Linked DNA regions of Homo sapiens. The protein of the gene in region 1 purifies or fractionates together with the protein of each later gene. This does not show direct contact. Each region holds a gene or a part of one and is shown in the gene's direction. Other genes may lie near its edges.

The links. Proteins that work in one complex are often made in the same cells at the same time.
Region 2: the proteins of ALDH4A1 (region 1) and AHCY fractionate together in Homo sapiens (co-fractionation; one large-scale study listed by BioGRID). This does not show direct contact.

What each region holds. Positions count from the first base shown.
Region 1 is NC_000001.11:18,888,922-18,892,568, reverse strand, and holds part of ALDH4A1 (delta-1-pyrroline-5-carboxylate dehydrogenase, mitochondrial isoform a precursor), read left to right. Parts: intron 1-1,677; exon of another isoform or gene 1,678-1,875; intron 1,876-2,463; coding exon 2,464-2,557; intron 2,558-3,114; coding exon 3,115-3,207; intron 3,208-3,647. UniProt on the Homo sapiens protein: Irreversible conversion of delta-1-pyrroline-5-carboxylate (P5C), derived either from proline or ornithine, to glutamate. This is a necessary step in the pathway interconnecting the urea and tricarboxylic acid cycles.
Region 2 is NC_000020.11:34,293,356-34,297,002, reverse strand, and holds part of AHCY (adenosylhomocysteinase), read left to right. Parts: intron 1-1,417; coding exon 1,418-1,608; intron 1,609-2,846; coding exon 2,847-2,922; intron 2,923-3,647. UniProt on the Homo sapiens protein: Catalyzes the hydrolysis of S-adenosyl-L-homocysteine to form adenosine and homocysteine. Binds copper ions.

The sequences.
Region 1 (3,647 bases):
GCCCCCCCCCGCCTCCTTCTACCTGGGATGCTCTTCCCAGCTCCTCTCAAGCCTCCTTTAAGTCCCTCTCAGGGTCACCTCCTCAGAGAGGCCTTCCCTGACCACCCTGGCTGAAGCAGCCCTATTCTCCCCCTTGTTTGCCATGCTCACCATCTGCGGTTACCTTGCTTATTTCCTGACCAGGCCTCACACTGAAGGTCACCTGTGTGCAGCCAGGGGCCTCGCTGTCTCTGTCACTGCTTTATCTCCAGGGTCTGAGACGGCACCAGAGACCCAGCAGGTCCTCAGTCAACCTCAAGTCAAGTGGAATGAACACAGGGCCTGGCCACACTCCTTTGGTTTTGTGTCCTTCCTTCAGGCTTCCCAGGCTGGGTCTTTGAGCCCCAGACTCCTTCTGGCCCCCGACACTCATAGCCGGGCCAGTCTGTCTCCCATAGGGCAAAAACAATCCCGCAGAACACTAGCCTCAGGCCACGTCCCTCTGAGACCATGATCAGATGAGACACAATAAGCCCTCTTCCTGATTTTTTTTTTTTTCCTTGAGATGGAATCTTGCTCTGTCATCCAGGCTGGAGTGCAGTGGCGTGATCTCAGCTCACTGCAACCTCTGCCTCCCGGGTTCATGTGATTCTTCTGCCTCAGCCTCCCAAGTAGCTGGGAGTACAGGAGTGGGCCACTACGCCCAGCTAATTTTTGTATTTTTAGTAGAGACGGGGTTTTACCATATTGGCCAGGCTGGTCTCACACTCCTGACCTCAAGTGATCCGCCCACCTTGGCCTCCCAAAGTCCTGTGATTACAGGTGTGAGCCACCATGCCGGGCCTTCTCTTCATGATTTTTGTCTAAGCACGGACAAAAACAAGGTCTCTGTGCCACCCACAAAGCTCTGCACATCTTGGTAAATGTTCCTTTTTTCCCAGTCAGCCTCACCCCCACTTTCTGATGGCAGCCAATCCAGAGCTAACCGTGGCTTCCTTAAACCCTCCCCAAGTCACCCTGCCAAACCCCATGGGTTTCCTAACAGCATCTTACTGAGATGCCCTGTGGTTCCCTACGCTGTGTGTTTTCCCTCATTGCGCCGACCAGTGAACCCCACCTGTGCACTTCCAGCTGTTCGGGTTGTCTGGGGCCATTGACACCAGAGAGAGATGGTATCTGGGCCTTCTGGACTCAAGTGCAGGTTTCCCCTACTCTTGATCTTGAACTAGTCATTTTCCTTTTAGGACCAAAATGACCTTATTTCTGTAGAGAGGTGGCTGGTGAGGCCCGTCCTATGCCACGGTAGATGGGAAGTTTGTCAATTTCAAGTGCCCTTTGGGCATTAGTTGACTTTGTCATCATCATTCTTCTCATTTACAGAGGGGGAAACAGGCCTGAAGGGGAAGCCCCACAGCTGGGAGGTGGCAGGGCTGAGGCTCCAGCTCTGGAATGACTGACCCCAGCGTCCTAGCTTTGAGCCACCTGACCTCCCACCTTGTGACCCTCAGATGTGGTAGGGGGTGGTGGAAAGAGGTCAGAGGATTTGAGCAAGGAGTTCTTGAGACTCAGTGTCCTGGAATCAGGCACCTCACCCCCAGGGCCAGCCCTCCCGGGGCTGTGAGCTGAGCTCAGGGCAGCTCTCCAAGTTCATGGTCCACATCTTGGACATTCCTGCCCAGCCAGAGCTCTCAGCCCTTTGTGCCAAGGGGATCTCAGCTGGTTCACATTCTGAGACTGTGTTCTGGAATGTGCTGCCCTTTCAGCTTAGAGAGAGGAGTTTGGGTCTTTTTGGGATAAAGCCTGCCTTGTGGGAGAAGAAAGGGAGAGTAACGCTTTGCATGTGGAAAATACTTCAACGTGGTTTTGCATCTGTGTGTTTAAACTTCAAACAACCGCGTGAGTTCGGTGCGATTATTCTTACTTGATAGACGTAGAACCACGTTCACAGGAGGCAACTCACAGGCTCAAGGACACACAACCGTGGGACTGGGACTTGAACCTTGGGTTGTGGACCCCCAAGGTGGGTTTTTGTTGTTGTTTTGAGATGGAGTTTTTCGCTCTCTCACCCAGGCTGGAGTGCAGTGGCACGATCTCGGCTCACTGCAACCTCTGCCTCCTGGGTTCAAGCAATTCTCTTGCCTCAGCCTCCTGAGTAGCTCAGACTACAGGCACACATGCCACCACACCTGGCTAACGTTTAAAATATTTTTAGTAGAGACGGGATTTCACCGTGTTGGCCAGGCTGGTCTCGAACTCCTGACCTCAAGTGATTTGCCCGCCTTGGTCTCCCAAAGTGCTGGGATTACAGGTGTGAGCCACCATGCCCAGCCCAAGGTGGGGTTTTGACCCCCCACTTTCTAGTTGCATTGGATTTCAGGCTCTGGGTGCCCACCTAGGACCCCCTGTCGGAGGTAGAGGGGCTGGGGTCTGGTGGTGGGGCCGCTGCTGACCTCTCTGCCTCTGTCCCCTGCCCTTGTGTTCCAGCCTGCGGTGGAAGCACACCTCCTCCCTGAAGGTGGCCAACGAGCCCGTCTTAGCCTTCACGCAGGGCAGCCCTGAGCGAGATGCCCTGCAAAAGGTAATGGGAGGGTGGGAGGCACCCGAGAGGTGCAGGGCATGGAGCAGAGGCCATCCCCAGCAGCCCTGAGATAGCGCCCCGTGCCTGCAGCCATCACCCGCTTCTACCCTTGCTCCCAGCCTTGGGTGGAAGCCTGGGAGGGCTGTGGGTCTGGAGTGTGGGAACAGCTGGGAGGACCAAGGTGGCAGCCTGGAGCTACTCTGGGGCTTCTCAGGCCAGGTCAGATGTCATAAACCTAGTTGTTTTATAGTTAAACATGTTTTCCAGTTAATTGCCAGCATTTTAAAAATCATGAGATTTCATATAAGTTTCAGGTGCAGTTTTTTTATCTCTGTGTCATGGGTAGACCTCACCTTCCTGCAGGGTGACAATGGCTGGAGCAGAGTCCGGCTGTCCCCGAGGGCAGCACATGTTCTCTGATGGCCACCGACCTGGCCTGGCCCCCTTCTCATTTCTGTATTGCCTGGGCACCTCCGTCTGTGGACTCTGCGTTAGGGTTTTAGATGGGAGGAAGCGAGGAAGGCGGTGACCATACCCACTCTTGTCCCTCTCCCCAGGCCTTGAAGGACCTGAAGGGCCGGATGGAAGCCATCCCATGCGTGGTGGGGGATGAGGAGGTGTGGACGTCGGACGTGCAGTACCAAGTGTCGGTATGTCCAGCGGGTGGGCAGAGCTCAGCCCCTCCCCTGAATATGTGACCTCTTTCTCTGACAGCTCGTAAGCTTATAATGTGTGGGCTCTGACTTCAAGGCCTTTATAGTGCCCCTCCCCACCCCAGATTTTGAATTCTGTGGACCAGTAAAACTCCCAAAGCAAAGGACGGCACCCACACTGCATCCAGCCCATAGCGGCATCCTGTGTCTGGGCAAGAAAGGCCATGAGGGGGCCACACAGCATCTTCTGTTATTCCTCATAGATTTCTTGCCAAGGGGGTTTGGGAGCTAATGACAAAAAGCTGGGCCCCGGGCCCCGAGCACCTCAGATGGCATTGGCCTAAGAAGCCCCCATGCTTGGAGTTTATCCATCCAGAAACTGGCATGCACTTTACGTGGGCCAGGAAACTCATAGGTCTGTGATTTGAGGGAGAATA
Region 2 (3,647 bases), on another chromosome or scaffold:
TCACTGGTGATGGCCTACTAGGGTAGGAGGGCTGGGGTGGGTGGCTTGAGTTGAGGCACAGCCGGAGTGGTCTCTCATGCGGGAGGCGTGTTTCATCTCTGAAATTGTTAAAATGCACTGTAGGAAGCTGACTGACAGACAATTTTATTGATTATTAAATTCTTAGATTATTAAATTCTCTACAGAGTCCTTTGCCTCCCACCGCCTACCTCTTTGGGTGTTTGGCAGGATCTCAGCTTCCCTAAAGATAAAAATCACCAGGAGTCTTAGACCTGCTGAATCATATTTTCCAGGGGAGATTTACAAGCATGCCAGAGGAACATCCCTTACCGGGGAAGTCTGCAAACTTTGACCTAGGGACTGACCTAGGGTATGACCTTGGAAGTGGACCAGTGTGGTAGGGGAGAGTATTGAGATAGTGAGTTAGCTCATAATAATATCCTTCTTTCCTGCCTGAGAATTTGAACAAATTCGAGACATTTTAGGTGGCAGATAGCACCTGAAATACTTTTTGTTACTAGTAACCATGAAGCCAGAGGATGTAGATTAGTATTTTAGGTGGCAACACCTGAAATATTACCTTTTATTACTAATAACCTCAAAGCCAGAGGATATAGATTAATATGAAATCCAAATGATCCTGCTTATTGAACCCCCAGATTCAGCAGTTACCCAATCAGTTGCAGGCAAGGTGGGCCAGGGTAGGTTGGTCTCTGGAAAAGCAGAGAACACCAGCTTCCTGCAAGTGGGCAGGTGAGTGCTTGCTTGCAAAAAGAAGGGAGAGCTAAGCTGAGCACACCATTTTTTCCTCTCAGTTTTACTGGTCAGACAAGCTCACCCCACCTCCCCTGGGGCAGAGAGGCCAAGAGCATTCGTTATACGGATGAGTTCCTCCAGGTGGAAAGAAACATCAGGAGTGGGGAAGCATTTTTACATCTAAAAGGAGATCAAGGAACTGTCAAATCCAAAATGTTAGATAGTATTTATAAGTGTTGAATCACCGAGAGTGATGACTGAGAGAGGAAGATGGAGAACCAGCAGCTAACATCTTTAGGGAGTCTTTAGGGAGTGAGGAGTGGCCTGGAGGTTGGTAGGTGTCAGCAGAAAGGCAGGGTAGTGGGAAGTATCATGTGAGCTATTTTTCAAAGGGACGCTTCTTTATGTTGTAATTTTTGTGTCCCTGTGTGATTAAATGTGTTCTCCCACAAGTCAGAAAGGTGCAGGTAGGCAGGGACCGTGTCTTTCTTGAGTACTCTGGCTTCATAAATACTTGTTGCATGAGTGAGAGAATGCGGTGACAGAGTGCTAAGCCCTAGTGTGTTGAGTCCACACGTGGATCGGGGTCCATGCAGTGACCGCCCCTCTTGGTTGGTGGGATGAGGGGACTCACGGAACTCCCACCTGTTTCCTCCCGTAGCCGACATCGGCCTGGCTGCCTGGGGACGCAAGGCCCTGGACATTGCTGAGAACGAGATGCCGGGCCTGATGCGTATGCGGGAGCGGTACTCGGCCTCCAAGCCACTGAAGGGCGCCCGCATCGCTGGCTGCCTGCACATGACCGTGGAGACGGCCGTCCTCATTGAGACCCTCGTCACCCTGGGTGCTGAGGTGAGGCCCACAGCTGTATCACCCCAGAGTCCTTGCCCTCCCTGGGTTCAGCCAGGGAAGAAGACGACTGTGCCAGGGTGGGGACCTTCCAGGTGTGGAGCTGACCGCGGGCCTGGAGGGGTTCCTCCCTCTCACTCGGTTTCCTCCGTTTCCCAGTGCTGCCACCCCTTGTGGTGAGTGTTCTGCAGATTTTCTCCCTGGCTGGGAAGGTCACTGTTGGCTACCCTCAAGGCATCCTCCTGATGGATGCTCTGGCAGGAAAAATTCAACACCCATGTCCTACTTAGTCTCTTAAGGGCCAGCTTGCCTTGGCCCTTCGGGGGTCACAGGCCTACCCTGGACCCATCATGGCTGCTGGATGATGGCAGCTCTGATTGGTTCAGCCTGGGTCATGTGTGCCAATGATTAACAGCTCTCCTAAGGTCTCAGAGAGTCAAGAAGCAAGCTGGTTTCCCAAAGCAGGGTAGGGCAATGGAGCCAAAATCCACAGAGGGGCTCAGGGCTGAGTCCTTGGACCTCTTCTTTCTTTTCAGCATTCACTCTTGGCGGTCTGATTTTATAGCTTTAGACACTATCTGGTGATGACTGTCACATTTTTGTACTAGCCTGGACTTCTCCTGGAACTCAAGACTGGCATATCCAGGAGCGGGGGCGTTGACGCTCCCTGGAGGTCTAGTACTCATCTCAGGCAGAACGCGTTCAAACAGACTCAGGATTTTCTGCCCCCTCTTCTTCCCAAAGCCTTCCCCACCTGAGTAAATGGAACCTCTGTTCCAGCCTTCTGGGTTCTCTCAATTCACGAATCTGGGAGTCATCTCCTCCCCTCCCTTTCCTCCCCACTCCCAACTCCCTTTACTCCAACAACTCATCCCTCTGCAAATCCTGTCAGTGCAGCCTTCAGAGTAGACCCAGGATGTGACAACTTCTCATCATCTCCACTGCTACTGTCATATTTCTTGTCTGGAGTCTTCTCCAACAGTCTCTGCAGTTGTCCCCTTGCTTCCACCCTTTCCCTTCCACACAGCACTGGAGTGAGGTTTTAAAACCTGAGTTGGATCTCGCCCCTGCTCTGGCTCCCATCTGCCCACCCAGCATCCCCAGCCTGTGATCCTAGAGCTTGCTGTGCCTAGATCCCAAGCCTCTCCCCACTACCCGAAGCTCTCCCTTTTCCTCGCCCAGCGTCCCTGGTGCTTTTGAGCCATCAGTGACCAACAGCCTTGTTTTGATGGCTCTTCTAGGTGCAGTGGTCCAGCTGCAACATCTTCTCCACCCAGGACCATGCGGCGGCTGCCATTGCCAAGGCTGGCATTCCGGGTAAGTCCTGCTTGCTTCTGAGACGTGGAATTTGTGAAGGGATTCTGCCCTCTTTGCTTCACTGACTGCTAGAGCAACAGACTTCCTTACATATCAGAAAGGGAGAGGAGTCACCGCCACAAAATCCTAGCCCAGCGACCCCACAGGAAAGAGCTGCTTTGTCCCATCATCATCTAAAATCCTGTGGAAGTTGTTTATTGACCCAGGTCAAGCCGTGTAACCAGGAAGAGCAAGATCTTATGATTGGGAACTACATGATGAAGCGGAGGGGAAGTTCATTAAAGGAAGGATGTGGATCTCTTTCCAAAGAACTGGGGAGGGCTACGGGGCAGAAAAAGAGGTTCACTGCCTAGGGTATGGCGGTCTAAAGGACTGAGGAAGGACCAAGTCTAACGAGAATGGAGTTTTCACAGGCTGGGCACATGTCTGCTTGGACTTGGGGAGGGGAGTGGTTAGATCTGACCCAGTGATTAGGACATTCAAGATTGCTTCTAACCAACCACAGGTGGACAGGAGGGGGTGGCACAGCACTCCTTCACAGACTGACCAGGGCTGAATGGGCATGATCCCCATTCCTCAGCCTTGGCACCGTGGCTTTCTTCTTTTTTTTTTTTCTTTTTGAGACAGAGTCTTGCCCCGTTGCCCATACTGGAGTGCAGTGGTGCGATCTTGGCTCACTGCAATTCTTAAGACTATTGTCTGCTCCAGTTGTGGGTAGAAGCAGC